2 linked regions of the Homo sapiens genome follow. The protein of the gene in region 1 purifies or fractionates together with the protein of each later gene. This does not show direct contact. Each region holds a gene or a part of one and is shown on either strand. Other genes may lie near its edges.

Region 1 (3,500 bases):
TCTTCAAAGAATTGTAAAATAAATGCTCTGAATAAATTTTGCTATATAATATTGTATAAATGCAATTGAGAGACTCTCATATAGTAAATAATCTTAGAGAATAATGAAGTCCAGAACAGTGATCCACAATTTCTTTCTTAACTCACTTGTTTAGAGTAAACATATACAGGGAAGGTGGAAAAACAATGCAGACTTACATTCCAGTTACCCCACATATATAGGAATAAGTCTGACATACATAAATGTACAAAAACTGACTTAGCTGCATAAACAGTCATGTTTACACAGTATAAAGAATGCAGTATAATGAAGGAAAAATGGAATTAACATATACCTGTAGAGATACCACACTGACATTATCAAAATGGATATGTCCATTAGCTTCTGTGACAGCAGGATTTGCATAGCATGTCACACCATTGATGGCAGGTAATGCTTTAGGTTGATGAGTTTTTTCTTGAGGACCAAAGTTATCATTTCCAAAGTGGGTATGACCATTCTATATGGGAACAAAAACCAAAGAGATTATAAGAAGAAAAAAGATGATTCATACAGACAAGGAAATAGAGTTTACTGCTTTTTATTTATAAGAGGAAAATTGTATGTCTATTCTATGTGTAAAGAAGTATTTTTAGATATATAAAATTTCTCTTTTTTACATGTATTTTCATTTATTAGATTCTGCTGTTACTGTTTGTTCGTGTTAGAACACGTATACACTCTTATTTTGATGAATATGAATAGAATATGAATTATGCACATCTGTTATTCAATATTAAATTGCTGATACTTGAAAAAAAACAAAAATAACCTCCAAATTTTACAACATGAATCAAGTATTTATCTTATACTTGTCAATATATTGACTCTTTGTTCTCCTTAAACTCACAAGCCTAATAACTGGACCATTCTCATAATTCTAAAAATAAAATTTCTGTCTTTATTTGCCTATATAAAGTAGCTTTAGGGGGTAAAATATTGGATGTTTTAAATAAAGTCCATTTACCTGACCATATGTCTTTAATAACATCTTTAGCATTCTTTCAAAAAAGAAAAGTAGGTAAAATCCACCAAACACAGCAACTGCCTTCTCAACATAACTGTCGACTTTGGGATCAAATCCAAATGCCTAAGGGAGAAAAAAGGGCAATTCAAGTAAAACCAAGAAATTTAACTTGATTTCTGGAAAATAATACCAGTATGCAATTCTCACCAATGTTCTAAGTCTCTCTTCACATCCAAGTAATATTGGAAACTTAGCTGCCAAAAATCACAAAACAAAAACTTTGAAATTTGAATGACAAAACTGTATGAGATGGCACAAAAACCTTACAACTAGAAGTCTCATTAAATAAAGCCACCAGAGAATCTTACAGTTTCCCACCTATAACACCTACAGCAATATTTGCCTTGAAAGAGTAAACTTTTAGCAGTAAAGCAGCAGCTCTGATTCTCATCTTTAGAATACGATATTAGGTCTAGATAATGAAGATAAATGAGATATTGATTACCTACTGTCTCTAAAAGTAATATATTAGTCCATGATATCCAGAATCAAACTTTTAAAACAAATATGGCAGGCCACTTGGATTACTGTTTTCCCAAGAGAAATCCTCTTATACCTACAGAACTGTGATAAATCCTAAAAAGGTAAATAAATCAAGGCCTAGGCCCAAGAATAAAAGCAAAAAGAAGATTTAAAATTGCCACCACTCTCTCTCTCTCTTTCACACACACACAGCAATAAGAATGGAATAATTCTTTCTTTAAAGGACAAAGAACTGGAGTTAGAGTTTGAAGTTATAAAGAGTCAAGATGTTCCTAACAGACAAGACACATAAACTTCAAATAAATAGAATCAGAGGAGAGACTAATGGGTGAAAAGCCACAACTTTACACCATTCCACACATTGTAAATCTCCCCTCTGAAGCAGAATAGAAGATGTCTGGGTTCTTGTCCTATGTTTGCCTCTGGGGAGACATCATGGCCGCATCCTCATTTGAATAACTTCTTTGTGCCTGTTTATACAATGCAAAATGGCTATATAAATATAAATGTTCCATTTACCTAACATTGAGGTTATGAAAATAAAGTGAAATAAGAAAAGGAAAATCATTTTGCTACAAAAAACTCTATGAAAATTTGAGAGATTATTACAAAGACAGATTCTTTATATTGTTAAACTTCAAGAAAATAGAAAACCTTAACATCATCAATGTAGAGTCTTTAGTCCACATACAGTATTAGTTTGTTTAATTTACTTTGACCCATAAAGCAGATGAGATAATAAATACATATATTATATCATATTAAATGTATTATGTATATAATACTCTTTTAAATCAGAAAATCTGTATTGTCATCCTAGCTTTGTTACTAGCTGATTGTAAGGCTATAATCAAATTATTTAACCACCCTAAATTTTAATATTTTTTATCTCTACAATTGAGGCTGTGAAATAGATATTATCTTAGGTCCTAGATCAAATAATGATAATAAATCTATAACTCTAAAAAGTTATATACCCACTTTCAATGTATAGCTTGAAAAATTAAAGGAAGCTTTAGTTATAATTTTCTAAAAATTACGAGATAAGGGTGGTACTCCCTGAAATACTATTAATATTTTCTCTCTGTATGGGGTTTGTCTCTCCCTGTGTGTGTGCATTGTGGGTGGCAGATACAGTCCATGTATACATATATTTCTCTAGTTCCCCTTTGTGGATCCCTTCTATGAAAGTCTCTTTCTCCTTTCCTTCCTCTTCAACATTGCCTCTCTTTTCCTTTCATTTATTTCCCTTCCTCCATTTCTCTTCCTTATATGGGCACAACACAGATTTGAAATAAATTGAATAGTGTGCACTATAGTCAAGATAGATCAATAACACATTTTATCAAAGAAAAAAAATAAGTTGCTATTTATTTATTAGTCCTCAATTGATATTTTTTCCACAGTTGGAAAAAATGAAAAGGTTTGTCAACCATGCTCTCATTTACTCTCTAGTCACTTATAACTGTAGTAAATATATGAGGGAATTTAGTGGTATATGTTAAATACATTATAAATTTACATTTGACATTTGCAGTACAGTTGACATTGCATGCTCTTTAGAAAAATAAATAAATAAATAAATAATGAAACAGTGTGTGGAAAAATTAAATTTGCCAAGTGCAAGGCAGAATAAAGTTTTAAGGCCTTCTGAGGTGTCCCAGAGCTGTCTGAGCACGTCCTAGTGGCTGGCCTCCTAGAATATTAATTTTGTCTCTGATAGTGATATCCACTGCAGCTTGGGACAAGCCTTTACAATTGCTGTGATTCAGCTTTCTCTTATCCAAGACACTATAAACTAGACCATAAAACGCTGTAAGAATTATGGAGGCTAAAAACATACAAAGTGCTAAAACGTTCAAAAGAAACAATTATTCACAGAAACAAATAGCCAACATCCTTACCTCTGGAATAAGTTGGAAAATTGCATTTGAAAAAAGAGTCCCAATAG
Region 2 (3,500 bases), on another chromosome or scaffold:
CAGCCTGGGCAACAAGAGTGAAACTCCATCTCAAAAAAAAAAAAAAAAAAAAAACCTAATGGCATAAGGAAATGCAGTATCTTAATTTTTAAAAAAGCATATATTCATGTACATATATACACATATACACACATGTACGTATCACTTTTTTTTTTTAAAGAACTAAAGGGAAATCAATTTTATCTGGTAAGATCTGCATTTAGAGGTAAAGAGTGTATTTATTCTTTATTCTTCTCCATACTTCCTCATATGCTTTAATTTTACATAAAAATTCACATTATTTTCAAAGTCACAAAGGCATTAAGTGTTATTTTAAATATATATACATAGTACAATGAATTGTACTCTTAAGAATCAAAGATAGTGCCACCAGTACCCTAAAGTCATGTAAGGCAATACCCACCAGAAACATCTTAGTGACCCTTACTGCCTTATCTCATTTGAATTTTAAAGCCACATGTTAGATAATTTGCCTGCTCCTGAACTGACAAAAAGGTGGCTTCCACCCTGCAGTTGTCCCAGTCAGCAGATTCTGGACAGAAAAGGGCATAAAACAATTATCACCAAAGTCAAAGAGCAGCTCAGATGCTCAGCAACACTGACTAGCCTTCTCTTCTGGGTTAGAACTACAGATTTAAGCTTTCACCAGAACTTGTGCCCAGAAGCGAATGTTTTTCCTAAGGTGTTGCAGAGGGTGTCATTACTATTGAGGAAGTTTCCATGCATCGAAATCTGGTAAAAGATCCTTTCTAGGCCTGTTGATGATATTAAGTGCTTTATGGAACCTGAATAGAGTTCTTAAGCTATTCTTTGAATTTTCCTAACATGTAGCCAGCTGCAGGGAATAGGAACCAAGAATTTTAGCCTTTTTTATAGAAAAGATAAGGAATCAGAGAAGTGCTGAGAGGTCAAGCCTATTGTTATCCATTGTCCCCCACCTGATGCCAGGGCCCGCACCTTCTTGGAAAGGGTGGCCTCGCACACTACTGCTTCCTGCTTGCTGTACCATGCCAGAAACACCACCACCACCAATGCCCTGGTTAGATCCAAAGGTGAACTTGGCCATACCCAGCTTATCTTACAGCCCACAGAAGAAAACTGTATCTTTTGAACAGGGCAATGACAACCACATCTCCTAGTTTAGTAGGGTGGTGGCAAGCCTGACCTCTTCTGAAACAGAGCATATTTCCTCTCATGTCTGGTCAGGCTCTACCCCTGTAAATGCTAAGAATAGCTACATAAACAGGTTGCTGAAGCCCTGTGTTCAAACAAATGAACAACGTCAGATCTACATGAACAGTTATGCCTGGGTGGTAACAGATGCAGGTACATTCAAGCCAGAGTTAGTGATTACTAATAGGAATGAATGCATTTTAATTAAGCGCTGGTTGGGCACAGTGGCTCACACCTGTAATCCCAGCACTTTGGAAGGCTGAGGTGGGAGGATCGCTTGAGGCCAGGAGTTTGAGACCAGCCTGGGCAATACAGTGAGATTCCATCTTTAGAAAAAAAACTTTTGTTTTAAATTAGCCTAGTGTGGTGGCACATGCCTATAGTCCCAGCTACTCTGGAGGCTGAGATGGGAGGATCACTTGAGGCCAGGAGTTTGAGACCAGCCTGGGCAATACAGTGAGACTCCATCTTCAGAAAAAAACTTTTGTTTTAAATTAGCCTAGTGTGGTGGCACATGCCTATAGTCCCAGCTACTCTGGAGGCTGAGGTGGGCATAAGGCTTGAGTCTGGGAGGGGGAGGTTGCTAGAGCCTGATCACACTACTGTACTTCAGCCTTGGTGACAGAGCAAGACTCTATCTCCAAAACAAAACAAAACAAAATAAAACAAAAACAACACCAAAAAAAAAGAACAAGAATAATCTAAATTAATCTAAGTGCCTTAATAAACTTTGTCATTTGTAATCCTTACAACAAGCCTATGAGGTTAAATGATATTATATTGTCTGTTTTACAAAAGAGGAAGTAAGCTTTAAGATGATCGGTGACTTGTTCAAGGTCACACATCAGTAAGGAACACAATGTGTTCCATCCGCCCAACAGAAACACTAACTACCTTCCAGAATAAACAATGGTTCCCATGTTAGGATCATGCATAAGAGCTACTTGGAGCCTCTTAGATGCAGAGCCCATAGGGAATTTCTTCTCATTTCCTGCTTCACTAAAAACATTACTGTGATTTTCAAATGAGTCCCAGCTGTAACTGTACCACACAGAGCATCACAGAGTTTCACCAGGGGCTGCTGCTATTCATTCATGGCTCTTACTATGTGCCAGGCAAAAGGTACTAAGCTCTGGGGCACAGTGGGGAACAAAACAGACCAAAGTCCCTCCTCTTTCAGAACTTACATTGTAAGTGGGAGAGACACATGATCAGCTCATACAACAAATACTTGATGCTAAGTAGCTTGAGTGTTATAAAGAATGAGAGTAACAGTGGGTTTGGGCCCTCCTGTGAAGGAGGGAAGGCTAACTTCTCTGAAACAGAATGGAATGCGCATGGCTGTGTTCTAACCAACTTTATTTACAAACAAAGAAGGAAGAGAGGAAGGGGTGGGGGAGAGCAAATGCAGACGCTCAAAGACAGGCGAATGCTCAGCCACCACCCAACAGTCTTGTCCTAGAAGAGAGCCACCATGCCTTAGTAGACTTGAGGGGGTGCGGAGCTTTTTAGGGTGTCCACAGCAGCAAGAGGTCTGCTCAAGCACTTCTGACAGCAAAAGAGCACCAGGACACAGCTGGGAAGAAGCAGAGGGTCATAGAGAGCTATGACCATCAGGTAAGACAAGGGACATTCTAAGCCTCATCGTTTGAACATGGCAATGACAATCACATTGAGATTGAGACTCCAACCTCACACATGTGCGTGCAATCCCTCCTCAATCCAGACTTGAAGTAGTGGTGCTGCATGAAAGAAAGGGTCTTAATGACTGAGGGGTAGAAGAATGAGCCCCTTATTCTGAGTTTACTCCTCCTGTCTAAAACATTTCTGAGGTCTTCCTCAGACCTTTTGACTGGCCTGGGCGTGCTTGTGAACTTGGCCTGGCTTTGATGAGGATACTGGGCAGGCTGGACTCTACCACAGGATGGCTGGAAAAGTCCCAAGCCACAGAGAGGCCCATTTTTAGGTTCCAAGCTTTTTAAAGCAGAAAGCCCTTTCTTTAATCACACCAGCCACGTCACCATACAGTAACTAAAAGCCTTCTCAGACACACTGAACAGCCCAGCTATTTTTTTCCCTACCATTTTCACTTCAAGAACAGTGTATTTCCCTCAAGGGCAGGGGATTTCTACTTTGGCAACAGTGGTTTTCCACATTATCCCACAACAGTCCCAGCCCTCAAAAAAAAAAAAAAAAGAAAAAGAAAAAAGAAACCATTCCTATTCCTTGACCATATTTCCCTATTTGTAGGAAGAGAGACACAAAAAAAAAGTGGAAAAACAAAACAAACTAAAAAACCCTTTACATGCTTGCATCTTTAATGAAAT

The links. Proteins that work in one complex are often made in the same cells at the same time.
Region 2: the proteins of SLC39A8 (region 1) and MGAT5 purify together in Homo sapiens (affinity purification with mass spectrometry; 3 studies listed by BioGRID and IntAct, with this or other methods). This does not show direct contact.

What each region holds. Positions count from the first base shown.
Region 1 is NC_000004.12:102,303,983-102,307,482, forward strand, and holds part of SLC39A8 (metal cation symporter ZIP8 isoform a precursor), read right to left. Parts: coding exon 3,454-3,500; intron 2,020-3,453; exon of another isoform or gene 1,214-2,019; intron 1,130-1,213; coding exon 1,007-1,129; intron 500-1,006; coding exon 335-499; intron 1-334. UniProt on the Homo sapiens protein: Electroneutral divalent metal cation:bicarbonate symporter of the plasma membrane mediating the cellular uptake of zinc and manganese, two divalent metal cations important for development, tissue homeostasis and immunity.
Region 2 is NC_000002.12:134,260,572-134,264,071, reverse strand, and holds part of MGAT5 (alpha-1,6-mannosylglycoprotein 6-beta-N-acetylglucosaminyltransferase A), read right to left. Parts: intron 1-3,500. UniProt on the Homo sapiens protein: Catalyzes the addition of N-acetylglucosamine (GlcNAc) in beta 1-6 linkage to the alpha-linked mannose of biantennary N-linked oligosaccharides.